2 separate regions of the Homo sapiens genome follow, and region 2 is linked to region 1. The links come from fine-mapping of genetic effects on gene expression. Tissue or cell type: whole blood. Region 1 holds a variant in brackets; the other region holds the start of a gene. All regions are shown on one strand. Distances are from middle to middle.

Evidence for each region. PIP is the estimated chance that this variant, and not a neighbour inherited with it, causes the effect.
Region 2: it holds the start of GGNBP2, and the variant in region 1 is fine-mapped to the expression of GGNBP2 in whole blood (TOPMed, PIP above 0.99).

The regions. Positions count from the first base shown.
Region 1 is chr17:36,572,275-36,577,468 of GRCh38, reverse strand. The region is part of intron 6 of GGNBP2 (gametogenetin binding protein 2); the gene reads right to left. It also overlaps the pseudogene RPS2P50. Among named protein-coding and RNA genes, the nearest start is that of DHRS11, 17 kb to the left of the region's middle. The variant C/A (reference allele first, on the strand shown) is at 2,382.
Region 2 is chr17:36,542,281-36,547,474 of GRCh38, reverse strand. GGNBP2 (gametogenetin binding protein 2) reads right to left here and starts at 2,556. Exons shown (of 14, transcript NM_024835.5): 1 at 2,378-2,556; 2 at 1,658-1,856. The coding sequence starts at 1,750. It also overlaps a transcript of MYO19 not described here.

The DNA of each region.
Region 1 (5,194 bases):
GGGGAGAAGAATGGGAAAGTGGTGTGTGCATTTTTTAATTTTCTGATTATTTCCAAAATGCCAAATTCTTTCTTCCCAAAAATGCCTATTTCTCAATAACAAACATAATATAGACAAAATATACATGGAAACTGGTTTAAACTTAAGTGTATAAAATGTGGCAAAAGAATAGAAGAGTTTGTGAATGTAGAGAAGGAAGAAAATTTCTTTTAGAAACCAAATATCAATCAATCAGAAAGAAATAATAGAGCCTGGTTTCTTTATCTTTGAATTCCTGGAACAAGAAGAACTTGGTCAGGTGGAAAAGCCAGGCTCACAATAAGAGTAAATGGCTAAGAAGATTAGTTAAGTGAAACAAGGAAATTTTGATCTCTTTGATTTAAATTCATCTCCCAGATGAGCTCATCTATGCGTATGGCTTCAACTAACATGTCTATAAAGATGACTTGTGACTCTACAGCTCCATTCAAATCTCTGCTATTGCCTGAGGGCCAGACCCATATCGAAAAGTGACAAGACATGGCAGATGTCCAATAGGCAACACCTTAAATTCACTGTCCAAGGGTAATGCTGTTCTATTCCTATGTGCCTTCTCAATCCCTGTTAATAAGAACACTGCCATTCACAGCCATTCAGAGTCACCCAGGCTGGAAATCTGAGTTAATTCCAACTTCTCCCTGGGTCTTCCTATTGAGTAGAGCCAACTAGTATTCATTCTTTCTTGTTTCTCCTGTAGGTCCCTATTTTCAATTCCCTCTGGCATGGTTTAAGTTGCCTATGCTATATATATATATATACACATATATATACATATATATACATATACATATATACATATACACACACACACACACACACACACACACACACACATATATATATATTTTTTTTTTTTTTTTTTTTTTTTTTTTTTTTGAGACAGAGTCTCTCTCTGTTGCCCAGGCTGGAGTGCAGTGGCGCCATCGAGGCTCACTGTAACCTCTGCCTCCTGGGTTCAAGCGATTCTCCTGCCTCAGTCTCCCGAGTCGCTGGGATTACAGGCGCCCACCACTACACCCAGCAAATTTTTTGTATTTTTTAGTAGAGACAGGGTTTCGCCAAGTTGGCCAGGCTGGTCTTGAACTCTTGAACTCAGAGGATCTGTCCGCCTAAACTAAGCTAGAGTGCAGCGGGACAATCATGGCTCACTGCAACCACCGCCCCCCAGGTTCAAGCAATTCTCGTACCTCAGACTCCTGAGTAGGAGGGATTGCATGCGCCCACCACCACACTGGGCTGATTTTTGTGTTTTTAGTGCAGATGGGGTTTCACCATGTTGGCCAGGCTGGTCTTGAACTTCTGACCTCAAAGTGATCCCTCCACCTCAGCCTCCCAAAGTGTTGGGATTACAAGCATCAGCCACCACGCCCGGCCTAGACTTCTTACTATAGTATTTACCCTTCTACTGCCATATCTTTGTTTCATGCACACACGTTTTGCTGGACCAATAGTAGATAACAATGTTTCTTAAAATGAAGATATGGGCTGGGCGCGGTGGCTCACGTCTGTAATCCCAGCCCTTTGGGAGGCAAAGGCGGGTGGATCATCTGAGCTCAGGAGTTCGAGATCAGCCTGGCCAACATGGTGAAACCCCGTCTCTACTAAAAATACAAATATTAGCCAGATGTGGTGGCATACACCTGTAATCCCAGCTACTCAGGAGGCTGAGGCAGGAGAATTGCTTGAACCCGGGAGGCAGAGGTTGCAGTGAGCCAAGATCGCACCACTGCACTCCAGCCTGCATAAGAAGAGCGAAACTCCATCTCAAAAAAAAAAAAAAATATATATATATATATATATATATATATATATATATGTTACATTAGAGGCTCTAAGCCCACTTGGTAAACAGAGGCAACAATGCTGACAAATAATGTTAAATTATGTTATTTCACTAAAGTTTTAAATATGGGCAAAAATATACAAAAATTAACACAAAATGGATTAAAAACTAAATGTTAACATCTGAAAACCATAAAACTAGAAGAAAACATAGGGGAAACTCTTCATGACACTGGACTAAGTGATGATTTCCTGGCTATGACACCAAAAGCACACATGCACAACAAAAACAAAAATAGATGCTTCTCTGAGAAAACACCAAATGGCAGATGATGCTGGTGGCAGCCGGTGGTGGGGATCGCCTGGGATGGGGAAATGCAGTGGCTTCCGTGGAGGTTTCGGCAGTGGCATCCGGGGCCGGGGCTGGGGCTGAGGCCGCGGCTGAGGCCGCAGAGCTCATGGAGGCAAGGCCGAGGATAAAGAGTGGATGCCTATCACCAAGCTGGGCCGCCTGGTCAAGCACATGAAGATCAAGTCCCTGGAGGAGATGTATGTCTTCT[C/A]CCTGCCCATGAAGGAATCTGAGATCACTAACTTTTTCCTGGGGGCCTCTCTCAAGGACGAGGTTTTGAAGATTATGCCAGTGCAGAAGCAGACCCGTGCCGGCCAGCGCACCAGGTTCAAGATGTTTGTTGCCATCGTGGACTACAATGGCCACATCGGTCTGGGTGTTAAGTGCTCCAAGGAGGTGGCCACTGCCATCCACGGGGCCATCATCCTGGCCAAGCTCTCTATTGTCCCTGTGCACAGAGGCTACTGGGGGAACAAGATCAGCAAGCCCCACACCATCCCTTGCAAGCCGACAGGCCACCACGGCTCTGTGCTGGTGCGCCTCATCCCTACGCCCAGAGGCACTGGCATCGTCTCAGTGCCTGTACCCAAGAAGCTGCTTATGATGGCTGGTATTGATGACTGCTACACCTTAGCCAGGGGCTACACTGCCGCCCTGGGTAACTATACCAAGGACACCTTTGATGCCATCTCTAAGACCTACAGCTACCTGACCCCCGACCTCTGGAAGGAGACTGTATTCATCAAGTCTTCCTGTCAGGAATTCACTGACCATCTCGTCAAGACCCACACCAGAGTCTCCATGCAGAGGACCCAGGCTCCAGCTGTGGCTACAACACAGGGTTTTTATACAAGAAAAATAAAGTGAATTAAGCCTGAAAAAAAAAAAAAAGACTACAGTCGTGTCACTTAACAATGGGACACATTCTGAGAAATGCATTGTTAGCTATTTTGTTGCTGTGCGAACATCAGAGTGTACTTACACAAACCTAGGTAGTATACATATTTTTATTTATATTTTTTTCACATGGAAAACCAAATGTCCCAGCACCATCACTGAATATTAATCATTTCCTCTACTTGATCTGCAACGCAGTATGCTCCATTATAATCTTACGGGCCCACTGTCATATATGTGGTCTATCACTGACCAAAATGTCATCACATAGCACATGACTATGCATTAAACTTAAAAACGTTGGCACAGCAAAGATGATCAACAGAGTAAAAAGGCAACCCAAAGAATGGGAAAAAATATTTGCAAACCATATATTGAATAAGGGGTTAATAGCCAGAATATAAAGAACCACTAGAACTCAATCACAAAAAAAATAGCTTAATTTAAAAATGGGCAAAGCCGTGATCATGCCACTGCACTCCAGCCTGGGCAACAAAGAAGATCCTGTCAAAAAAATAAAATAACTTAAAAGTAAATAAATAAATGGGCAAAGCATGAATCGACATTTCTCCAAAGATTATATACAAATGGCCAGCAAACATATGAAAAGATGCTCAACATCACTAATCATCAGGAAAATGCACATCAAAAACACAATGAGATATCACCTTAAACCAACTAGAATGACCACTATCAAAACAACAACAACAACAAATAACAAGTGTTACTGAGGATGTGAAGAAATTGGAACCCTTATGCACTGCTGGCAGGAATATAAAACGGTACAGCTGCTATGGAAACCGGTACGGAAGTTCTTCAAAATAAAACTACCATACGATCCAGGAATCCCACTTCTAGGTATATATCCAAAAGAACTGATAGCAAGGATCTTGAAGAGATATTTGCACACTCATGTTCACTGCAGCATTTATTGACAACAGGCGAAATGTGAGAGCAACCTTCAATGTCCATCAATGTATGAATGGACAAAGAAATGTGAATAGCCAGGTGCGGTAATCCCAGCACTTTGGGAGACCGAGGCGAATGGATCACTTGAGGTCTGGAGTTCAAGACCAGCCTGACCAACAAGGTGAAACCCTGTCTCTACTAAAAACACAAAAATTAGCCAGGTGTGGTGGTGTGTGCCTGTAATCCCAGCTACTCAGGAGGCTGAGGCAGGAGAATCACTTGAACTCGGGAGGCGGAGGTTGCAGTGAACCGAGATCAAGCCACTGCACCCCTGCCTGGGCAACAGAGCGAGACTGTCTCAAAAAAAAAGAAAAAAGAAAAGTGAATAATATCACATATACTATGACACTGCCCATTTTTAAATAATGTCACAGTATTGTGACATTATTCAGCTTTTAGAGGGGAATCCTGTCATATGCTACAACATAGATGAATCTTAGACATTATCTAAGTATTGTCTTAGATAATGGCTAAGTAAAATAAGCCAATCACAAAAATTCAAGTGCTACATTATCCCATTTATATGAGCTATCTAAAATAATTAAACTCAGAAACAGAAAGAAGAATTGTGGTTGCTAGGGGGTGAGGGGAGAAAAAAGGTGTTGTTCAATGCGTATAGTTTCAGTTGAGATGAAAAAGTTCTAGAGATCTGTTGTACAACAATGTGCATATAGTTAACAAAATTATAATGTACACTTAAAAACTGTTTGAAAGGTAAATTTATGTTTCACGGTTTTTTGAGACAGGGTCTCACTCTGTTGCCCAGGCTGGAGTGCAGTGGCATACTCTTGTCTCACTGTAGCCTCAACCTCCCTAGTAGGCTCAGGTGACCCTCCCCGCCTCATCCACCTGAGTACCTGGGACTACAGGTGTGTGCCACCACGCATGGCTAATATTTGTATTCTTTGGAGAGACAGGGTTTGGCCATGTTGCCCAGGCTAGTCTTGAACTCCTGGGCTCAAACAATCCGCCCACCTCAGTCTCCCAAAATGCTGAACTGTGAGACACTGTGCTTAGCCTTATTTTGTGTTCTTTTAAAATATACACATACGCGCGCAGGAACAGAAAGTCTCTCCTTTAGGAGAGAAAAAACGGACACAGAAATAACAACAAATACTTCCACATTTTCAGGTTATAAACAGCAAGTTCACATTTTCA
Region 2 (5,194 bases), 30 kb after region 1:
TGTCTTTTGAAGACTATTTATGTTGGTTTTCCCTATGTTTTGATATGTTTTCCTATGTTATGATTATTCATTAAATAATAATCTTATATCCAAACTCACTGAATTTTTTTTTTTAACTCCACAGCCATTGTGGGACAATAAACCTTAAAGGCTGATATCATAACTATATGCTTCAGAAAAGTGTTTATGTTAGCAGGGGAGAGAAGAAAGAAAATATCAACAAATGAATCCCTATCTGAAGTCCAAACTGAGAAATGCATTATTTAATATGATCACAGTGCTAGTTTCAACTATTTAAAAATACAAGTCCATTATACTTCTAATGCAAAAAGTACAGAAATCATAATCAAGACACACAATTTCTAATGCATCAACACTATTTACTTTATGTCAGAACAAATCATTCTACCTTTTTTCATGAAAAATAAATGCACTTGAATAATTAGAAATGCTGTCACTTAAAAACTTCTAATAAATTAAGTCATTCAATAGCTCTTCTAATCCTTTTTAAAGTACTGCAGCTCAATCAAGTCTTAATTGAGACTGGCAAGCATAAAGGCATAGACTGGCATCTCTACAATGACTTGCATTTTACATAAAATTTGAAAAAACTTCGGTAGATATTTGCAAAAAAAAATATTGAGGAACAAAACTGATCAACTGCCTTTGATAGCAAAAGAATACTGATGAGATGAAGAGACTTAGGTGCACCTTATCGAAATAAGCAAATGTATAATCCAAAGCTTCAGCATCATCAAAACGCAGATTTCAAAAGATATTCGGAAAAGGTTAATTTCATTTCTTAAGTGGCAAGCAACTGCACTCATTTCCTGTTCAGATTCAATTCAAATTTCAGCCATTTCCTTTTAAAGGAAACAGTACAGCAACATAGGGCAGAGGGTCGATAATGCTACACTACCAAATCTAAAGAATAAAGTACCCGGAACTGGGTCTTGACACTCAAGATGAGCAATCAGCTTTTTATAGTACTCTTACACATTCAATAATTTGGCTTCCTTTAAAAAAAAAAAAGTCCACCTGTAAACTAAATAATGCGAAGAAAGCCCGTTTTGAAGAAAGGGCCTAGCAATACAATCATTTCAAGAGTTTTAATGCATTAGGCAATACGAGACTATTTACAACGAAATCAAACCATTTTAGTGGAATCTTGACTGTGCACGAGCATGTCACTCTGCCCCCAGTAATTAAGCTTATGTGGTGAGAGCTACCAGTATTAAAACAGAAAATACACAGGTAGCAGTGCAGCTGCGACATTACCAGGTAATTAAGCCTCCCCGAGGGTAGGTGGTTTCTGTATGGGGTAGGCCCTAAACGCCCAAGATCCTTCAACCCCTCTCTGAGATGTGTGCTTTGACAAAAGCAGCGTCTCCTAAAGGGAAAGGGTCAAGGAATAAGGTTCCAAAAGAAGGAAAATCTGGAGAGAGGGAGTGCGTACGGAGCTCTGGGCTTGGGGCCGACAGAGGTTACCGAGCCACCCACTGCAAAGGCGAGTTTGTGGGGCCTGCTGAAGAGAAGGCCTCGCCTAGGAGTTGCAACACACTCTTTCTCCAGTGCGCAGCGCTCGGCCTGGGGGAGGGGGAGGAGGGGAAACAGCTGCCAGGGGAGCGGCGGGCCCAGCCCGGCCCGGCCCGCTCACCGTCAGGGTGTCGTCTATGTAGAGGGGAATCTGCCTCCTCTCGAAGGGGAACTCCTCCTCCCCGTCCCTGCACACTGCCACGAGTCGCGCCATCGTCCCCGACGCTGCCGTTGCCACCGTCACCACCTCCTCCCAGCTGCCGCCGCCGCCGCCGCTGCTGTTTCTGCCGCCGCCGCTGCCGCCTCCTCCCAGCTCCTGCCTGCAACAGCCAAACCCCGCGAGCGTAAGCACCCGCCGCTGCGCAGCACATTCGCCACGGGGGGCAGGGAGCGGAGCGGGAGGGTACGGGAGAGCCGGGCTGCGTTTCCCATCACCCGATTCCACACACGCTCAGCCAATCAGCGCCCAGCGCCGCCGGGACCCGCCCCCCTCGCGCCGCGCTCCCTCCCTCTCTCCCGCCCGCCCGCCCGCCCGCCGGCCTCCAGTCAGGGTCCAAAGGAGAGGCGGAAGGGACCGGCCTGCCGGGGGCTTCCCCGCCCGCTGCAGGAGTCCCGGCCCCAGGACCCCACCCCTGGCCTGGGCCCCGCAGCCTGTTCCCCGCCGCCCGCCGCCCGGGTGCCCTCTGCCCCCAACTGACCCCTTCTCCCCGCTTCTGGGCGCACCCCGCCCAGTCGGCCCCAGGACTGCAGTTGCCCAGCGCGACCCCGCCCCTGGGAGGGATCGACCCCGCAGCGGCTCTGCGGAGTCCAGGGAACGGGGAGGCTCAGACCCTTTCCTCACCCTTCTCGGAGGAGGCTGTCGGTTCCGACCTTCACCGTTTTCGTGGTCGCCTCGCTAACTCCCACCTCTGCTCCCTGTTACTGGCTGACGAGGCCCGCGTCAGGGCCGGCGTGGGCGGGAGCGCAGCTCCGAATGTCGTTTCCTCTACGGGCAGTCAGCCGCTCGCGCCGCGGGGAGTGGAAGAAGGAGGGCGGGGGACGAGGGGAAGGTGGGGCCGGGCGGGGTCGGGCGCCGGGCGGGACCCACGTCCTCTCGCGAGACTGGGGCTGGCCGCGCTGGGGACCCCGCTGGAGAAATTTGCGCCCAGAGGGTGCGGGGCCGCCCTGGCCGTCCCGCCCGTGGGCCCGGCGCCCTTCTCGGAGCCCAGCCATTCCGCTAGACCCGAACTAGGACTGGTAGGAGGGGTGATCGGCCCAACCTCAGGCCCCAGCCGCGGGCCGGGAAGGCTTCCCCACGGACGAGGGGCAAGCCCCTCGACGTCAGGGTGTCGTCTATGTAGAGGGGAATCTGCCTCCTCTCAAAGGGGAATTCTTTCAGCGAGTCAAGCCCGTCTGATTCGGGGCTGACTCAGGGCAGAGGCCCAGAGAGGACCTGGATAGGTTGCGAGAAGTCGAGATCAGAGGGGGCGGAAGGCAGTGAGAAAAGGGAGACGAGCATCGGGGGGTGAGAGACAAACTCAGGTCTGGCTCTTGGCCCTTGACGCCACTGAATTCGCTTCCCACGGTGGGAAGAGGAGAAAAGGGCCCTGACACCGCGGCTCGCCAGGGGCCCGCTGCGTAGCTGCATCCCGATCCCGCTGAGGGGACAGCAAATAGTGAAGTGCTGATAGCTTGTGGTTGTCGTTACACTGGAAGGAAATAGAAAACCGGACAGTGGTGTGTGTGTGTGCGTCTTGGCCAAAGGAACTTCTTGGGCTGGGTTAATGTGAGCAGGTACTCCCTTGGGCGAAGTACTGGCACTGGCCAACGGCCTTTCCCTCTGGCCGTCTCCGAGGAAGCAGAGCTGCTGTGAAGACAGTTCCTCTCGCCACCGTGTGTTCAGTTCTGACCTTGAAGGTTTTGGAGGTCTGTTGTGAAGATATTTAGCCTATGAAAGTCCTGGTGATCTGAAGGACAGATCAATTTACTGCTCTATTTCCTGGAGCTGTGATACCTTTAAAAAAAGTATTTTGGGTCGGGCATGGTGGCTCACGCCTGTAATCCCAGCACTTTGGGAGGCCGAGGTGGGTGGATCACCTGAGGGTCAGGAGTTTGAGACCAGCCTGACCAATATGATGAAACCCCCGTCTCTACTAAAAATACAAAAATTAGCCGGGCGTGGTGGCATGTACCTGTAATCCCAGCTACTAGGGAGGCTGAGACGGGACAATCACTTGAACCCGGGAGGCGGAGGTTGCAGTGAGCCCAGATCGCGCCATTGCACTGCAGCCTGGGCAACAAGAGCGAAACTCCATCTCAAAACAAAATAAAGTATTTTGGTTATCACATGGAGTCTTAGAGATTCACAACAAATAACCCATAGTGCACCCTTAGCCATGTTGACTTAGTACATTGTGTGGTCATTGTTAGGGTCGGTGACATAATAAACGAAGAACCATTGTTCATTCCCGAAGGTGTCATTACCCGGCAAATATTTATGTCTTCTGGGCCGGGGTCATGGCTCACGCCGGTAATCCCAGCACTTTAGGAGGCGAGGTGGGTGGATTACTTGAGGTCAGGAGTTCGAGACTGGCCTGACCAACATGGTGAAACCCAGTCTCTACTAAAAATACAAAATTAGCCGAGCGTGGTGGCGCACGCCTGTTATCCCAGCTACTCGGGAGGCTGAGGCAAGAGAATCGCTTGAACCCGGGAGGCAGAGGTTGCAATGATCCGAGATCGCGCCATTGTGCTCCGGCCTGGGCGACGAGTGAAACTACGTCTCAAAAAAAAATTTTTTTTATGTCTTCTGGCCATGTTAGCAGAGTAGAAGAGTGAGTATTAGCTTGAATCTAATACGTATGTATGATGTTCATATACATAGCCAAAATTTGGACATTTTTAGAGAATCTTGCGTTTTATGTAAAAAACAAAACAAAAACCAGGACGGGGGCGGCGGCTAACACCTGTAATCCCAAGACTTTGGGAGGCCAAGGCGGGCGGGTCACTTGAGGTCAGGAGTTCGAGACGAGCCTGGGCAACATGGAGAAAACCTGTCTCTACTAAAAATACAAAAATCAGCTGGGCGTGGTGGCGAGCACTTTTAATTCCAGCTACTCCGGAGGCTGAGGCAGAAGAATCGCTTGAACCGGGAAGGCGGAAGTTGCAGTGAGCCAAGATACTGTGGCCTTCAGTATCTAGAGGTGCTCCTACAGTGGTACATCAATTAATGTACCCACTTTAAACCTTTTTTTTTTTTTTGAGACGGAGTCTCACTCTGTCGCCCAGGCTGGAGTGCAGTGGCGCTATCTCGGCTCACTGCAAGCTCCGCCTCCCGGGTTCATGCCATTCTCCTGCCTCAGCCTCCCGAGTAGCTGGGACTACAGGCGCCTGCCACCACGCCCAGCTAATTTTTTGTGTTTTTATTAGAGACGGGGTTTCATCGTGTCAGCCAGGATGGTCTTGATCTCCTGACCTCTTGATCCGCCCGCCTCGGCCTCCCAAAGTGCTGGGATTACAGGCGTGAGCCAACGTGCCCAGCCTAAACCTTTTAGACTTCATTAGGATTCTGGTTGGTAAAGAACATTAAAAATGACAAGCTCATTATATAGGTGCTAATTTTAATTACTTTGACTACTGAACACACGCCAGGTACTAACAAAGAAGGGAGTATTCACCC